Homo sapiens: one gene and its partner. The protein of the gene in region 2 purifies or fractionates together with the protein of the main gene of each other region. This does not show direct contact. Each region holds a gene or a part of one and is shown on either strand. Other genes may lie near its edges.

Region 1 (4,765 bases), on a different chromosome or scaffold from region 2:
CTCTCAAAGACCTCCGGTATAAGACTCTGCTTCCCATTCTCCCTGACATCACCTTCAGTGAGACCCTTTCCCCTTGATCCCAGAGTCAATAAGATATAAAGCATTATATCTTTATACATTTATAAATGTATAAAGCTGAAAATAAGATATAAAGCAACACACAAGCCTGGCATTATATTTTGTAAGAAGGTTGCTTTATAATCATCTCTTCCACTGATCTCCTACAACTTTCCAGAGTCATGCTTAAAAATAAAATTTTAATTTTTGTTGTATTTTTTTTTCCTTTCATTCACTTACTCTCTTTGGCAAAATAAGGACTGCAATTCCAGAAATGTGGGGAGGCATCAAAGGTATGTAGCAAATGCAGGGAGAGAAATCAGTACAGAATCAGAGTGAGGATACATTTCAGCTCCCCATTTCCAACCCACTCTGCGTTCCTCTACAGTTCCAACCATCTCAATCACCTTTTTCACCATGTTCCTTCTTTGTTCATAAGGTAATCAGTGATACCCATTATCTATGGAATAAAGTCTAAATTCTCTGCTATCACTCAAAGCCCTCTGGGATTTAGGCTCATTCAGTTTACCTGATCATCTCACACTGTTTGTTCCCCACAGGGACCCCCCTTTAAAGCCAGATCAAAGCTCACCTTGTTTCCTGATACAAGCCATGTTTGCTTCTTCCCCTAGGCCTTTAATCATTCTGTTTCCTGACCTGGAGTGCCACCCTTCCTCCGTTCTACCTAACTGTTTATACTTCCTTCACAGCCTAGTTCAAGTGCCCTTCCACCTGAAATGACTCCATAGCTCCTCTGGCCCAGGCTCATCTTTCATTTTCCTGGCCTTCTATAGCACTTACTCTCTGTACCACACAGTGAGGCATAGTCATATCATACTTTCTTTTTTTCATGTAGTCCTCACTTCCCAGTAAGACTGCATGATTCCTGGGGTACAGGGAATATGACATACCTTTCTTTTTTCTTTTTTTTCTGAGATGGAGTCTTGCTCTGTCGCCCAGGCTGGAGTGCAGTGATCTCGGCTCACTACAACCTCCGCCTCCCAAGTACAAGCGATTCTCCCACCTCAGCCTCCCAAGTAGCTGGGATTACAAGCACCTATCATCATGCCCAGCTAATTTTTGTATTTTTGTACAGACAGGGTTTCACCACGTTGGCCAGGCCAGGTGATCCGCCTGCCTCGGCCTCCCAAAGTGTTGGGGTTACAGGCATGAGCCACCACTCCTGACCGACATACATTTCTTTTGTGTGTCTGAGAAGCGTGACCATAGGCACATGTTAAACTGAATGGAGGTGTCAGCTACTGAGAAAAAAGTTCTAGTACAGAAATTCAGGTCTAAGCAGCTTCATGTCCCCTCCCCACCACAGGCAATCCGGTGAGAGCAGTAGTGACAGCCACGCTCAGGAGAGAGACAGTGCGGGCTGTCGGGTTGAGCTACAGATTCAGGGACTCAGCAGGAGCAACAGGAATAACTGACAATAACACTAAAGCAGAAATGACCTTCTCAAAGTCTGGACTCAACAGCTGAACATGTAGCCCAAAAAGCTTTCAAGAATCCAGAAAAATCAGGATTTATTAACCAAAGGTTTATGAACTAACTTGACCTGAAAAAGGCCTCAGTTACCCATCATTCTTCTTATCCTCGCTCTGATTCTGTACTGATTTCTCTCCCTGCATTTGCTACATACCTTTGATGCCTCCCCACATTTCTGGAATTGCAGTCCTTATTTTGCCAAAGAGAGTAAGTGAATGAAAGGAAAAAAAAATACAACAAAAATTAAAATTTTATTTTTAAGCATGACTCTGGAAAGTTGTAGGAGATCAGTGGAAGAGACGATTATAAAGCAATCTTCTTACAAAATATAATGCCAGGCTTGTGTGTTGTTTTATATCTTATTTTCAAACTGGCCAGCCCATCTTATCAACAACCCTTGAAAGAGAAGGGAGGTCCTGAAGAGCCAGGTCTTTCACACTGAAAGCAAAAGACAGTCTGCTCAATCACTGACCCTGCTGGGGGAACAGATCCTGGAATTCTCTTCCTCTAGAAATGATAGCCAAGGCCCTGCCCTGCTTGTGCCTATCATGAAGAAAGCAGCTTTTCTGTTCTGAAGCACCCACTCATGAACATCTGGAGGGTTAGATCCAGAGCCCAGACTCTGTTCAAGTATCTACCTACCATTTTGATAAGATTCAAGGGAAACAGGAATCCATGGAAATAAGGATTCCATTTCTTCCTCCACTGGGATTTTCAGAAATTAGGCTAGCTTCAGAAATTTGCAAAGATCATCAGATAAACAGTAATGATAATCCCATAAAGAGAGAAAAACCTTAATCCTTTCAGTTCCACAACACTATGGACAGTTGTAGTTAGAAGCTTTCCCCAAAGCTCACACCTGCAGTGCCAGAACATAAGAAGTGACATAACCACTGCAACTTCACATTTGTACATTTGTTTTACAATGTACAAAATATTTCACATTCTGTCTATGATCTTACAACAATCTTAAGAGGTAGACACAGTGAGTATTAAGTCTATATTTCAGATGGAAAAACTCACTTCAGAAAGGTTATATGACTTATACATGGTAAAATTACGGTGACTAGGAATCAGAAGGCTTGGATTTACTTCCTGCCTCTACTCAATACCTTTGTGTAAAAGCTGTGTAAACCTTATACACATGCTTATAGCATTGATGTTAACTGTTGTTGAAAGCACTCTATAAATTATAAAATCCTACATTAATAGATGAGTAACAACTCTATGACTCCTAGGCCAGTACTCTTTTTTTTTTTTTTTTTTTGGTTGGTCTCAGTTTTTAATAGTGGCAGGGCCTCACACACTTGCACACGTGCGCATGCACGCACACACACTCTAAGGCTTCAGACCTTGTTGAAAGCTGCAACATCGACACTCTACACACGCTCTCAAACTTGGTAATCTCCTCTTCCAGAAAGTTTGTCCCCACCTTGTCGTCCCCCACCACACACTGAATCTGCAGCTTCCGGATACCGTAGCCCATGGGCACCAGCTTGGAGGCCCCCCTAGACCAGCCCGTCCAGCTGGATGAAGCGCATACAGGCCTCCAATTGGGCTATATTGGTCTCATTGTCCCAAGGCTTGATGTCCAGCGGGATGGAGGACTTGACCACCAACGCAGTCTTCTTGGCCTTCTTCTCCACATACCACCTCAGCCACTTCTCCCACAGCCGGGCTGCCTCCTTGTCTTCCTCCTCATTGTCGCTGACAAACAGGTCAATGTCATTGTCCTTGTCACCCTCTGCTAGTGTGGCTGCCTTCTTGGCTGGGGGCTCCACTTGGCACATGGGAGACACATGCTGGATCTGCGTGGCTGTGTCCCTGTGGCCAGGCAAGCTCTTCTCCAGCATGTTCAGCCACAGGCCAGCACTCTTTTCACTATACTAAGTTGTCAGACCCACAGAGAACTAACACCCATTGATAACTCACTGTGAGTTAATGACTGCTAAAGGGACACTGCACATCATGGCCTGCAAAACTATCCATAGGACCCAGCCACACGTAGGATGTGCCACACATCTAAGAATATTCAGTCAGCTCTAACCACGCTGTAGGCTTCCAGAGACCCAATATACAAAAGGGAGAATACAGCAAATGCTCCTAGTGTACAGTATTCTCTGTACTCCTAGAATACAGAGAATACAGAATCTACCTCCTAGAAAATTGTTAATAGCTCACTGCCCATGTACTTCCATAGCTGCCTATTTGTTCTCAAATCCATTCTCTTTTTCAATTACTTACCAAGCTTGTTTACTTAGGGAAAAGGATGTCTCAAGTCTTGCTAAGCAGAGATATTAAATTAGATTTTTCAGTTCTTCCAGGCCTCGGCACCCAAACAATCCTGTTAATGAACCCACAGCTCCTCTGGCTTTCCTTGCTGGGCCAAGCTTGAGCTCCATGAAGCTGTGCCAGTCTCGACTCTGCCTTGTAGCCAGCACTGCCATTCTCATAGTGAAAGGCTGTTTGCCTCTGCCAGCCCCATTCCACCCTTGAATAAACAACCTTTCCAGCTAGCCAAAATGCTTAGCTTCTTTCAACTGGGACTCTGTAATTTGAATCTGTAATCCAATTAGACATTTCTTAACCAAATTTGGCAACTCTTCACCATTTAAATTAGGTTTTGATCTTTCATTCCTCTCTCTTCCTAAGCATGGACTTTCTGGCAGAAGAACTGGTAATGAAGAAAACTGTTTCATTCTATCTCAGGCCTAGGCTAACAAAAACTACAATAATAATAATAAATGTGTAACTCTGTGAATTATAAAATCCGATGTTAAATGATTATTAATATCACCAGGCTCCTTTCATTATACTAGGCTATAAATACCTCTCCCCAACATCTTCCCCGCACTACCTCTTACCCTATCTTTCCTAGAAATGCATTTGCTGAGACTTTGTCTTTTTCTGCTTTCAGAATTTTGCTGAAGAATATCCCTCTTGGTCAGAAGCAAAACATCTGCTACACTTCCCAGGACAGGCCATTCTATAACCTTGACTTCATTAAGAGGAAAAGCTATCTTAGCATTTTATTTCCCCTTTTGCCCATATTAACATAAAACTTTGAGCTTCAATTTCTAAACAGCTGTTCTAGTTCCACATCTTCACATTCTTCCTAAAACAGAAATCTTAGGTAGGATTCCCATTATTAGCTTATCACAATGTACAGAAACTCATGACGTGTGTAAGGAATGAACATACCAATGAATATCTA
Region 2 (4,765 bases):
AAATGGAACACCATTGGAGAATTTATACAGAAGAATAGCATAATATGATGTTTTAAAAATTCAATATAGCTTATTATTTTGAAAGTTTTTTTAACTTACAGAAAAGTTGAAAAAAGATACAATTAACATCTGTATACTGTATGTTCCTCATCTAAATGCACCAACTGATAATGTTAACACCTTGCACTATCTGTGTGCTCTGACACACACACATATGTGTGCATATAAATACATGCATATACACATTTACACAAATCCTTGCTACCCTACCATCCTAAAGTAGGTTATAGATATCATGACATTTTACCCTAAAATGTCAGCATGCCTCTCCCAAGAACTGGAACATTCTCTTACACAATCATAACTCCATCACCACACCTAAGAAAATCAACATCACTAATCCAACAGCGATCCACTCTCAGATTTCTCTACATGTCCTTTATAAACTTCTAAACATGTCCTTTGAAGCTTTATTTTTCCTTTTCCAGGATCCAATCAAGCTTCATCCATGGCAACTGACTCTTTAGTCTGCCCCAATCTAGAACAAGGATTCTTAAGTTTTTGTTTTTGCCTCTTTTTTTGAGACAGGGTTTTGCTCTGTCGCCCAGGCTGGAGTGCAGTGCCACCATCACAGCTCACTGCAGCCTTGCCCGCCTCCTGGGCTCAAGCGATCCTCCCACCTCAGCCTTCCAAGTAGCTGGGACTACAGGTATGAGCCACCACACCCACCTAATTTTTAAATTTTTTTTGTAGAGTCTAGGTCTCACTATGTTGCCCAGACTGGTCACAAATTCCTGGGCTCAAGCAATATTCCCGCCTCAGCCTCCCAAAGTGCTAGGATTACAGGAGTGAGTCACCTTGCCTGGCCAAGGTTTTACATCCCATAGAGCACCTAGCAACCTGTTTGTTTATGGCACAGAATTACTGAAGATATAAAAAATGACTTGATTTTTGGCACTTCCAAATGTCTGGAATTTTTATGAAAAAGTTTTACTAAGATATCAGGTTAAAAAATTTAAATAGAAAGAGGCAGAATACATAGTATATTGCTGTTAACTGCAGGAACTATCCAAGCTCATTGTAGCTTCCACTGCAGGTCTAGTGGGTTTGGTGGGTTTGGGATCTGGGCCTGTGAAGGCCTCCAAGACTGGAGTCCCCAGTCCCTAGTCTGATTTTATTTATTAATAATTCAACAAACATGCCTAAGCATCTGTCATAATCCCCTTTGTTCCAATTAATGTGGAGCCTCTGAAGGCTTTCTTCTTTTTATTGTTTGTTCTAGAACTAGAAAGTTCTGCCCTTTCCTATGCAGCCCTCCTGCCCCCAGGTCTGCCTAGGGCCATGGGTTGCCCAAGCCTCTATTGATGAGGGGCAGTCTTAGGCAGTGGTTAAAAGCTCTAGAGTCAAATAGTTTGTAACCCAGCTTTACCACTTACAGCTGTGGAACCCCCGGCAAGTTATTTAACCTCTCTGAGCCTTGGCTTTTTAACTACAAAATGGGAGAAAGAAAAGAGCCTACCTCACAGGGTTATTGAAAGTATTAGAGTTAATGCATGTAAAGAGCTTAATGCATAGTAGATGTTCAAAAGATAATGGGTAAGGCCGGGTGCAGTGGCTCACACCTGTAATCCTAGCACTTTGGGAGGCCAAGGCGAGTGAATCACTTGAGCTCAGGAGTTTGAGACCAGCCTGGGCAACATGGTGAAACCACATCTTTACCAAAAATATAAAAAATTAGCCAGGCGTGGTGGCATGTGCCTGTGGTCTCAGCTACTGGGAAGGCCGAGGCTGAAGGATGGCTTGAGCCCGGGAGATGGAGGTTGCAGTGAGCCGAGATCATGCTTGCTGCATTCCAGCCTGGGCGAGAGAGCAAGATTCCATCTCAAAAAAGAAATAGGCTGGGCGCAGTGGCTCACACCTGTAATCCTAGCACTTTGGGAGGCCGAGATGGGCGGGTCACTTGAGGTCAGGAGTTCAAGACCAGCCTGGCCAACATGGTGAAACTCTGTCTCTACTAAAAATACAAAAATTAGCTGGGCATGGTGGCGCATGCCTGTAATCCCAGCTCAGGAGGCTGAGGCAGGATAATCACTTGAACCTGGGAGGCGGAGGTTGCAGTGAGCTGAGATCGCGCCATTGTACTCCAGCCTGGGTGACAAGAGTGAAACTCTGTCTCAAAAAATAAATAAATAAATAAATAAAAATTAAAAAAATGAGAATGGATACTAGCATTAGTTACAGTCAAGGCAGTGGCAAACTGGAATACTCAGAAACACTGGGGGAATCAGTGCCCAGTGCCCGCAGGCTTCTGTGGGGGTGTGATTTATTGAGACCCTGGTCTAAACCCAGCAGCTTCTGGGTTGACAATTAGTAGCTGCCTGACAATACACAGATGAAAGAAAAGGAAGAAGAAGGGCAGTCAGGAGATAACAGCAAAATCAGATTACAGGTCTCAGGTGTGTAGCAAGAAGCATGTATGGTGGGAAGGCAGACACTCTGGCACCAGCACAAGAGGTGATCAGGCAACTGAAGAGACCTGGAAGATGGAACTTCCCTGGGAAGGGGAAGAGGACGAGCAAATGAAGGCTCAGGAAGGCAAAAAAGAGGTCCAGAGCTTCAGAGCCCCCATTCCTCTCTTGAGCTGAGGGATCCAGACTCTCAAACAACAAAGAGGGGCTGCAAGCAAACATGTCTTATGTCTGAATGAGCACAGTCAGGGTCCTAACTATGGTCAAAAACCCAATCAGCGGAGGTCAATTACCAATTTGCTCCAGCCTCTGTCCAAGATCCCATGCTCTTCCTCCTTCTCTCTGGCCTTTCCCAAGGTTTCATTGGAAGTGCTTCTCCCTCCCTGGTTTCCTCCCTGACACTTCTCAGAAGCACTATTGCTATCTGACTGAAGTCTCCAGAAGTTACTCTTCTCTGTCCCTGTTTTTCTCCCCCTGGGAGCTGTCTGTAAGTTTGAATATGTAGGCCTTCCAGGTGGGTCTTCCCATCCAGCCTGACCCACGTCCTCCAGAATTAGGATAGGTCCTTCCTGAGATTTACTTTCTGACTTGCTGACAATAGTTTCAGAGGAAGTAGAAGGAAGATACAATTCGCCTACTCTCACCCCAACCCTAAAATGGATCTTGGGAGGTTGAGCTAGTTAATGTGTGGATCACTCTACTCTTCAATGAGGCTTAGCCTCTTCAACAGTTGTTAAACATCCAGCCCCAGGATCTTCACAAGGCTATTTGACCATAGACCAGATGGTGGGTGTGCTGAGACCCCTTCCTGCCACAAGGTTGCCTGGATTGTCCACTCATGCCAAAATGCTATCTGATTCTGCCCCCGAGTCCAAGGCACTGGGGCCTGGTCCCTGCAGGTAGCTGCCCTCTTCTCCTAGGACTTAAGTACATGCAGACTGAGGAAACTCTTGGGGGAAAGCTTTGGGTTGCCTCTTCTCAAACCCCTCTCCCAAACCTGTGCCTCCCTGCTCCATCCCTAACATCCACCCTAACCCCTACCACTTACCATGCTCTTGTAGATGAAATCTGCCAAGGTGAGGGCAGCCTCTGACCGGAAATATTTGCGATAATTCTTTCGGGCCTGGCAGAAAAGTACAAGAAAGGAGCCAAAGTGAAGATAGGCAGATTCTAGAAGAGGTTGTACTATTTTTCAACCACGCAAAGACCTGAGTAAGATAAAGAGCTGAGACTGTAGCTGGAAGTTGGAAGTAAAATCAGACAAGTTGGCAGTGAGGACACTTAGAGCAGAAGGCAAAGTTCTGCTGCCAAGTTAGGCATCTACCCACCCAGACACCTCTACAGGTCTCCCCTACAGGCCTCTCACTCCCAGACACCCACCCACACATGGACCGGCTGATACACAGAGGTGCGGCCTGGGTGCAGGCAGGACTAGCTCTCTGCTGCTCTAGCCAGCAGGTGACACAATCCAGGAGAAACAATGTGAGGAAACCTCTCTTCCACTCTCCATTACCTTCCACCCTCTCACAAAAGCCTGGATCAATAACACGGATGCCTTTATCTTCCCATAGCATTTCTTTTGCTGTAGAAAACATAGGAGTTGTTAGAAAAATGGCACCTCCTGAGCCACCTTCCATCTTCCCTATTAGAGTGAACAGAGTGGGACTTTGGGGATGACCGTACCATGTTTCCCCGAAACCAAGAGGAGATGAGGATCTGACTCTTTCGCATCAGTTGGTAGTGGGTGCGGCAGCGCCAGCCTCGGTAAATCTTCTGTATGAGTGTGGCCAGCTGCTGGAGTCTCAGGCGCCTCTGTTCTTCGAGGTAGAAAAGCTGTGGAGAGGTGGAAGGGGGTGACAGAGAGACTGGCTCAGGGGAACAGTGCTGTCCTCTCCTATACCCCACAGTACTGAGGCTTCCCAGCCAGGCCTTATTTGATCATTCCTTTGTCTTCTTAGTTTGCTCATTTATTCATTCAGTAAACAAGTATCTACTTAACTCTAACTTTGTAGCAGGCAGTAAGCTAGAAGTTGATCACCCCAACCCTCAAGGGCTCTGCCTCAGGCAAAGGCACTTAGAGCCATGCAGCACCAAGCTCCCCAGGCTCAGGGCAGTGTAGGAACCCAAGAGTTCAATTCCCAGGGATACGGTTCCTGCAGACAGGAAGCTTCCCATCCACTGGACAGTGATCCATTCCAGGTTATACACGCTCCCTCCCCCTCCAGCCTTTCTCAGGTGGGCTCTTCCACCTTCTACCCTCACCAAATGCTAATGCACTCTCTAACTCACAGTCTTGG

The links. Proteins that work in one complex are often made in the same cells at the same time.
Region 1: the proteins of MYO1A (region 2) and MAP3K3 purify together in Homo sapiens (tandem affinity purification; one large-scale study listed by IntAct). This does not show direct contact.

Annotation. Positions count from the first base shown.
Region 1 is NC_000017.11:63,635,246-63,640,010, reverse strand, and holds part of MAP3K3 (mitogen-activated protein kinase kinase kinase 3), read right to left. Parts: intron 1-4,765. UniProt on the Homo sapiens protein: Component of a protein kinase signal transduction cascade. Mediates activation of the NF-kappa-B, AP1 and DDIT3 transcriptional regulators.
Region 2 is NC_000012.12:57,032,791-57,037,555, forward strand, and holds part of MYO1A (unconventional myosin-Ia), read right to left. Parts: coding exon 4,758-4,765; intron 4,302-4,757; coding exon 4,152-4,301; intron 4,051-4,151; coding exon 3,982-4,050; intron 3,592-3,981; coding exon 3,517-3,591; intron 1-3,516. UniProt on the Homo sapiens protein: Involved in directing the movement of organelles along actin filaments.